Regions from separate parts of the Homo sapiens genome. Here all the other regions are linked to region 3. The links come from fine-mapping of genetic effects on gene expression. A gene starts in region 3. Each other region holds a variant in brackets. All regions are shown on one strand. Distances are between the middles of the regions. Region 1 has its middle 19 kb from the start of MIR9898. Region 2 has its middle 8.9 kb from the start of KRT2. Region 3 holds the start of KRT79 (keratin 79).

Region 1 (2,758 bases), 45 kb after region 3:
GGTAGCATGATCTGTTCAGTTTGTGAAACTTCATCACACTGTAGACTTATGACTTGAGTACTTCTCTCTATGTATGTTACACTTCCATGAAAATTGTTTTTGTTTTAAATAAATCTCCCCGTGTGTATGAAGCTCCACATCTTTCTGGGTTGGTGTGCACATGTCTGTCTGTGCCTGTCTGTACCTGTCTGCGCCTATGCACATACAATCTCCCATAGGAATTATTCCTTGTCTCTGGTGCCTGAGGCCCTCCATATGTGCACCTGACAGTACACACACGCGCACACGCATGCACACACCCACAGCCCCCTGCCTGCGTGTCTTCCCTCCATGATGGCAAGGCTGCCGCTGCAGAGGGTGGGGAGGGAATGTAGTAAGGCCTTTCTTTCATTTAACAGCAGATATTTACAACCATCTGCTCTGTGCCAGGCACGGGGATACAGAAGCATTCCAGTCAGACTGGGCCCTGGCCAAGCTCACCGTCTGCTGGGGAGGCTGTGGTGTGGTGAGAAGGGCCCTGTGGGGTAGCACAGGGTAGGGGGAGCCCAGCCTCGGAGGGGCAGGGACGGCTTCCAGAGGAGGAAATCCTAACTAAATTGGGAAGATGAAAGGCTCACAAGTGGATGGGTCAGCCATAGGAGGTGCATTGCAGACAGGGGGACAGCAGGCACAGGGGCTAAGGGTGTGAGGGGGTGCGACTTCCTCAGGGAACCCCCAGGGGATTCAGCTGCCTGAGTGGAAGGCCACGGCAGAGGTGACTTCAGCGGGGTCAGGCGGGCCTGGAGTGCCAAGCTCAGGGGCTTGTGTGTCTCCAAGGAAGGGTTTGGGCCAGGCTGGGACATGATTGGGATCAACTGGAAGGAGTGCTGTGGAGGAAGGCGCACTGAACTGAGAGTGAGGACACGGAAGTTCTCACCCTGGCTCTGCCCGATGCTGCCCAACTCCCCTCTCTGAGCCTCCAAAACGACAGCGTGCTGCACCTCGGAGCCGCTGGCTCACAGGCGGCTGCTTTCTCCTGGGGCCTGTCTGCTGCCGGCTTGCCTGTCCTCCTGGGTCCTGCCCACGCGCTTCTGCCCCCAGGCCCGTGCAGGCGTGGACCTCCCGCGAGGGCCTCAGCAGTCTCCAGGACAGAGAGTGGAACCCGCCACCTGCTGGAAAGGCCGGAGCCGGCGCAGAGCTAGCGCGGGGCAATGTGGCGCCCTCTGCGGGGAGCCCCTGCTGCCTCGCGCCGGCACTCAAACCTCCAGTACACAGTGCAGTGGAGGGCACACCAGCAGCAGCACGCCTGTCTCACCCTGCTCCTCAGTGCCCTCCGCCCTCAGCTCCCCCCACCCACCCCCCACCATGGCCCCTGCGTTGCCAAGGGCACAGGGCATAGGAGGACGTGGACTGATCCACCCCAAGCTCCGCTCACCAAGTCATGCCCTAGCCTACATTTCCCATGAGGATGGGAGCTTCCTCTGATTTGCACAAAGCC[C/A]CCCTGTCGGTTAGTGGTGGCCTGCAACCCAACAACCTCCCAAGTCAGCCTCCTGGGATAGGGAGGATGTAGTGAGGGGGTGGGAGGGTGTGCAGGCTCGGCTTCCAGAAGCCGGGAGAGCAGTTTCTTTCCCTGCTCCTCTGCTGCCTCCTAGTGGATGTCTGATGTCTCTCCGGTTTGCACAAATCCATCCCGCTTCGGTCAATCCTAGCCGTCTTGGTGCCCATTCTTCAGAAGTTCAAGCAGGCTGACAGCAGGCTGCAGGGAAAGAGGATAATCTACGGCTGCCCACGCTTCTCTGTGTCCCTTGGGTCCCCAGCACAGCACTGTCCCCCAGTGCCAATACTGGATTCTCAAAGTCTAGAAATGAAGGCAGAAGCTGGTGTTGGAGATTTTGCCCCTTTAATCAGCTGCACCTCAATCCCCTCTGTGCTGGCTCAGGTTCTTATGCTGCAGGAATCAAGGCGAGCCTTGCCTCTCTGGCCTCGGTCTCTCTGCTGTGTTTCCTGTGGCTTGTTTGATTTTGTTCAGGACAGGTTGTTTTGTTTTGTTTTGTGTGTTTTGGGTTTGTTTTTTTTGTTTTGTTTTTTGGCTTTTTGTTTGTCTGTTTCGAGCCAAGGTCTAGCTCTGTCACCCAGAATGGAGTGCACTGGCACGATCTCTGCTCAATGCAAACTTTGGCATACCCCCCCAACCCCCGCCCCCAGTCAAGTGATCCCAAGTAGCTGGGACCACAGGCATGCACCACCACCCCCGGGCGTGTGTGTGTGTGTGTGTGTGTGTGTGTCTCAGGGTCTCACTCTGTCACCCAGGCTGGAGTGCCATGGCGTGATCTCGGCTTACTGCAACCTCTGCCTCCCAGCTTCAAGCGATTCTCCTGCCTCAGCCTCCTGAGTATCTGGGATTACAGGTGTGTGCCACCACACCCAGCTAATTTTTTGTGTTTCTGGTAAAGACAGGGTTTCACCATGTCAGCCGAGCTAATCTCAAACTCCTGACCTCAAGTGATCTGCCCGCCTCGGCCTCCCGAAGTGCTAGGATTACAGGCATGAGCCACTGCGCCCGGCCCCAGCAATTTTTTTTTCCTTTGGTGGAGATGGGGTCTAGCCATGTTGCCCAGGCTGGTCTCAAATGCCTGAGCTCACGCAATCTGCCTGCCTCTGCCTCTCAAAGTGCTGGGATTACAGGCATGAGCCACTGCACCCCCAGCCATTTTTTCTTTTGTTTTTTGTTTGTTTGTTTGTTTTTTGTTTTTGAGACAGAGTCTTGCTCTGTCACCCA
Region 2 (2,758 bases), 170 kb before region 3:
TTCACCAGCCACCCTCCTCTAGTTTCCACCTCTGCTTCTCTTCTTCCCTAGACCAGCAGCCAGGAGATCAAGCTCAGCTGGGTCCCAGGAGCCCTCCGCATCTTCCGAACCCTTGCTCTTGCAGGAGCTTTCTAGACTCCCTCACCCACCTAACAGCCTTGTTGCCTGGCATCCTGGCCCTTCTTGGGGACACCTGCTTTCCAAACAGCAAAACAAGGAGCATCATACTAGAGCAGGTTGGCTGTTTACATTACCTTGGGAAAGCAGACTTTGCCTTTGTCCTAAAACCCAAACGATCGTCTGTCAAGGGGTGAGCAGGCTCCCCCTGGTTCCTCTGAGAGCTAGAGGAAAGAGCACTGCCAGGCAAGGGAGGGGCAGGACTGGGGTGAGACCTGATGATGAGGTTGGGAGACGCCAGTTTATGTTTCCTCACTGGTGTTTCAGCAGCAGCGCATGGCACTCAGCTCTTTGCCTGGCATTGATGGGGAGCAGCAGGCCCTGCCAGAGATGACCAGGGTCCCTTCAAAGGACCAGGGGGCACAGCTCCTCATCACTCTCCCCAGGCTGATGGAAGGAAAGAGGACTGAGAAGGAAGCTTCTGAGGCCAGGTTCAAGGCAGACCTGCCCTGCTCTACCCTGGTGGAAAACCCAGGCTTTCCAACACTGGGCTGTTGGGCCCTCTGCCTGTCCCCTGAGTCTTTTCTTTGCCTTCTGTCCTCATATAAAAAGTGACTACAGTATCCCAAGAGAAAACATTGAGAGGGATCTTCTGTTTAGGAAGAAAAGCTGAGTAATGTAATTAAAAGTAATAGCCAAAACCACAATAATTTTTGCACCAACCTAATATCACAATTAATTATCCTTGCATGGTGCCTTGTAACAAGCAAAGGCCGCCTGTGTACTGGTTAAGGACATGGATTTGTCCAACACACCTGGGTTGAATCCCAGCCCCACCACTTATTGGCCTCTTGGCCTTGGAAATGTTACCTACCCTTTTGTGGCCTCCATTTCCTCATCTGTAAAGTGGTGGTAACAGTAGAGTTGACCTTTTAACAACCGAATGGTTAGGGGGCATGACCCCTCTTGCAGTTGAAAATTCAATATAACTTTTGACTACCTAAAAACTTGACTACTATTAGCCTACTGCTCACCAGAGGCCTTATTGATAACATAAGCAGTCAACATATATTTTGTTTGTTTTATATATATGTTATTGCTGTATTCTCACAATAAAGTAAGCTAGAGAAAAGAAAATGTTGTTAAGAAAATCATAAGGAGAGAAAACACGTTTACAGTACTGTACTGTATCTATCAATACCATAAGCTTACATCATGTGTTTGCAAGATGAATTATCTATCATGTCAGAAATGGCAGGCAACTGCAGCTGCAGACCTCAATCTACGGTACATATCAAGCAATT[C/A]AGCTTTTTTTTTTGTAATGTCATGGTTTTTCTCTGCTTCTTGGGAGCACTTCCAGCATCACTAGTGCCACTCTGCATGGGTCCCATGGTGTTATTCAAGGTTTACTGTAAAGCACTAAACATGATGAAAAATATGCGAGAACCTCCAGAGATCACTTTTTACTGCTATAAGCAATTTACTGGGGGAGCTAATTGCTCTTGTGGAGATGACTAGCATCACACAGTGTTTTAATGGCAATACCTGAGATCACTGAAGTAGCAACAGGAGGTGGCTACAAAATGATTACAGTAGCACATATGTATCACAGTTAATTTTAAGCAGTTATGATTTAATAATGCACCTTTACAGTTGCTTACATTTCTCTTGACTTTGGCACTATGTAGAGTCCGTGTGTGCACACATTTTGATAAATTTTAACTTTTCATAACAGATTTGTGTATATTTTATGGGAGTAAGTGATAAAATAGACTAGTATCTACATATATTTTATGCATTTATGACATGCCTAACTTTTTTTTAATTTTTTTATGTTTCTAGGATACAAGTTCATCTTCAAGTTTTTTCAAATTGTCACAAATCTCCAAAAATTTTTCCAACATATTTACTGAAAAAGAATTCACATATAAGTGGAGTGGTGCAGTTCAAATCTGGGTTGTTCACAGGTCAACAGTAGTACTTCAGAGTTGCTGTGAAATAAGTGATTTATGTGACACAGCACAATTTCTAGCACAAAGCAAATATTTCTCCTTTCGCATTATCTGTAGAAGTTATAGTAAGTGTCTAGAACTTCCAACATTACGTCGATTTTATGTTATTGCCACAATCTCCTAGCCTGCATCTTGCCACCTGATCATGCACCTCTTTCCTTAGCTTACAAGCCCACCCTAACCCTATGCCCTGGAGCTCCCCCGCTGTCTCCGGTCCTGCTCCCAACTGGTGGTCCGCTGCTCCCTGCTCAGGCACTAAGTGGCCATTCATTACAAGGCCAGTGGCCATGGATTTAGGATATAAGCCCTCCCTTCATGAATGGGTATTTCTTTTAAAAGAATGAAGCATAGGACCCCACTTTGGCCCCCAAGGAAGCAGTCCTTCCTGCGTACCCAGGCTGCACCGCTGCTCGTTGGCCCCATCCCACTCCCACCCTTGGGTGCCTTCTCAAGGAAGAGCAGCAGTGCTGATGATCGCTCCCTTCATGTATTACTTCAGGTCCCTGTTGCATGTGTCATTTCACTTTGACACTCTCCCTCTGAAGTAATTAGGGCAAATGTTATCTCATTTCACACATGACCAAACTGAGCCTCTGAGAGAGTGAAGAGACCTGCCTGAGATCACAAGA
Region 3 (2,758 bases):
TGTCTGCCAGACCTTCCCCATCATGACCCGCTGCCTTGGCTCAGGATCGAGGTGGACAATGCCAGCGAAACAGACCAGGAAATCCCAGCACAAGTGTTGCTCCCATCCATCTGGAGGCAAGGGCAAGGTTCAGGGCATGCCTATGGGCAACAGGTCAAATTCCACATTCCCAGAGCTTGGTGACCTGGTGACCACCCTCCTCATTGTCCACCCCAAATTGAGCTTCTTCACTCAGAGTGTAAAAAAAGGAGAAGCGGAAGGGAGCCTACCCCTAGGACCCCACCCACACACAACTGTGTTTTGATCACATCTTGCCCTTAAGCCTCCTCCAAGCCTGAAAGAATGGAACAAACAGGGCTCCATGCTCTTAGCCTTGAACAACTCTTTCAACTCCTGAGCATTGTTTCCCCAGCTGTAAAATGACAAAAGGCAATGCAGGCCACCCCACTAAGAGGAGCTATGAGGACAATCCATTTTTTGATGATGAGGTAAGGCTACTGTGCAATCAATCGTATTAATCATGGTGGTAGGACAGGCTTCAACACGGGCAAGGTGGACTTGGCAAACCGGACTCATGAGTAGACTGGAGACTCCCCCCGCACAGGCACGGTGAAGACCTGAAGGCCGCCTCCAGCCACCCACGTCTCGGCATCCCAGGCTCAGACCGGGAGAGCTCCAGAGCTCTATCAACCACCACCCTAGTACAAGTGGGCTACAGCAGCCCTGGCCCAGCCCACCCTCTATTAGAGGTCCCGCTTCTTCCCCAAGAGCTCCCTTCCTCCTTCCTGCTTGGCCCACCTTGTCGATGAAGGAGGCGAACTTGTTGTTGAGGGTCTTGATCTGCTCCCGCTCCTGAGTGCGCACTCGCTGGATCTCGGGGTCAATCTCCACATGGAGGGGGGTCAGCAGGCTCTGGTTGACAGTGACCTCCTGGATCCCCCCAGGAGGACAAGCAGGCCCAAACGTCTGCCTGCCAGCCCCCTGTCCCATAAATGCCCTGCTGCCAAAGCCAAAGCCCCCCAGAGCCCGCCCCAACAAGGCCCCTCCGGCCACACTGACAGAGATACTCTTGTGGCCCCCCAAGTTATAGAGGCTTCGGCTGCCAAAGCCACCTGTGCCGGGGCCACAGTGGGCCCCGCCACCACTGCCACTGCTCCGAGACACCGTCACTGAGCTGAAGCTGGTGCGGGCCTGGGACCCACTCCCTCCGCTGGCAGAGTTGGAGCTGAAGCCCCCTTTTGTGGAGTATGTTTGCCGAGAGACGGAGGACCTCATAGCTGCAGAGGGGCCGGAGGGCAGGATGAGAGGGCAGGAAGGGAGTGCCGTGAGCTGCTGGGCCACTGTGGGCTTTTTATCTTTTCCCAACTGGGCCGGCTCCCCAGCTCCACAGACACTCCTGCCCCATCGCCCCAAGGGGAGAGGGAGGGGTCCTTAGGGCCACGGGGAGTGCCCTCTCCCCAAGCAGGAGGGAGGGGCCCTCCCGGTTATCACCTGTGCTCCAGAGCTGGGGCTGAGCCGAGACTGTCTGGGGCAGGATGCCACCTTCTCCCCCTGCCCCCAGGCTCTCCTCGGTTGGCACAGGATGATACGGGCTCCCATGGCCACCCCCACCACCCAGTGGCTGGCTTGCTGTCCTCCCACCCAGCCCCAGAGGCCACTGTCAATAGGGCTCTGTTCTACGGGGTTTGTCCCAGGCCCCTGTTGTAAGCCAAGGCTGCAGGGCCTGGGGCTGTACAGGTGGTAGGAGAAGGAGCATTGGGCAATGGGCTGCCAGAGAGAGCATCCAGGCCTGCTCCCATCCCACCCCCAGCCAACGGCCCACCACTCCTCCCAGGTCCAGGGTGTGTGACACAGGTGACAGGGCGAGAGTGGGGATAGCCTGTGCCTCTGCCGTACAGTGGCAGAGCCTTCTGGGAAGTGAGCCTATGCTGGCAAAGTGAATTCAAGGACAGAAAGAGGATCCCTGCCCAATCGTGGGGCCCAGGCCCTTGATCAGGAGGTAGAAAAGGCCTGGGGTCCTCAGGCAGGGCCCAGAAGCCTGGGAGCAAAGGACATTCTTATGGAGGCTGAAGAGAGGGCAGGGGATTTAACCAATACCTGAGATCCCTGAGCCTCTACCCCACAGCAGAGTCCCCACAGAAAGGTTCAGCCACTTTGGAGGGAGCTGGAGGTGGGTCAAGGACACAGACCACCCTGGGTGGAGACAGGCACAGCTCCAAAAAGCAGGTGTTCCAAAAAAGCCCCAGGAGGCCCACGCAGCAGCCCCGTCACTCCCATCTTCCCCTGCCCCACATGCAGGAGCCCATGTTTCTGATTCAGAGGGGCCAGGGGAGCTCCTTAAATCACCTCATATGGTCCCCGCCGCCCACTTCCTATTCACCTCAGTCTGCTGGGACCAAACACAGCCCCAAGCAAAGACAGAGACGTCAACTGTCAGGGCCGAGGGGTGACTGAGGAGGTGACTTTAGACACTGGCCCTCCCCACCCCCTTCTCTCAGCAAGAAGATGGGCTCAAAGTGAACAGAGACTTGCCTGAAAAAAAGGAGCGAGGACAGCATCGCTGTGCTCCCCACCCCCATCAGATGAGCAGGACAACCAGCCAGGCTGTGTCCCCAGGATCCCAACAGAGAGGACATGGGACTGCCACGGAGAAGGCTTGGCCTCCCTCCCATGTTCCCCACAGCCCAGCAAGTGAAGAGACAGCCTGCTCCAGGACCAGAGGGAGCTGTGGGATCTTCTCCTAGGGCCCCTGGGAGGC

Evidence for each region.
Region 1: its variant is fine-mapped to the expression of KRT79 in whole blood (INTERVAL, PIP 0.99).
Region 2: its variant is fine-mapped to the expression of KRT79 in whole blood (TOPMed, PIP above 0.99).

Annotation. Positions count from the first base shown.
Region 1 is chr12:52,878,484-52,881,241 of GRCh38, forward strand. No RefSeq gene overlaps it. Among named protein-coding and RNA genes, the nearest start is that of MIR9898, 19 kb to the right of the region's middle. The variant C/A (reference allele first, on the strand shown) is at 1,478.
Region 2 is chr12:52,659,750-52,662,507 of GRCh38, forward strand. No RefSeq gene overlaps it. Among named protein-coding and RNA genes, the nearest start is that of KRT2, 8.9 kb to the left of the region's middle. The variant C/A (reference allele first, on the strand shown) is at 1,422.
Region 3 is chr12:52,832,986-52,835,743 of GRCh38, forward strand. It overlaps KRT79 (keratin 79), which reads right to left and starts at 1,326. Exons shown (of 9, transcript NM_175834.3): 1 at 799-1,326. The coding sequence starts at 1,275.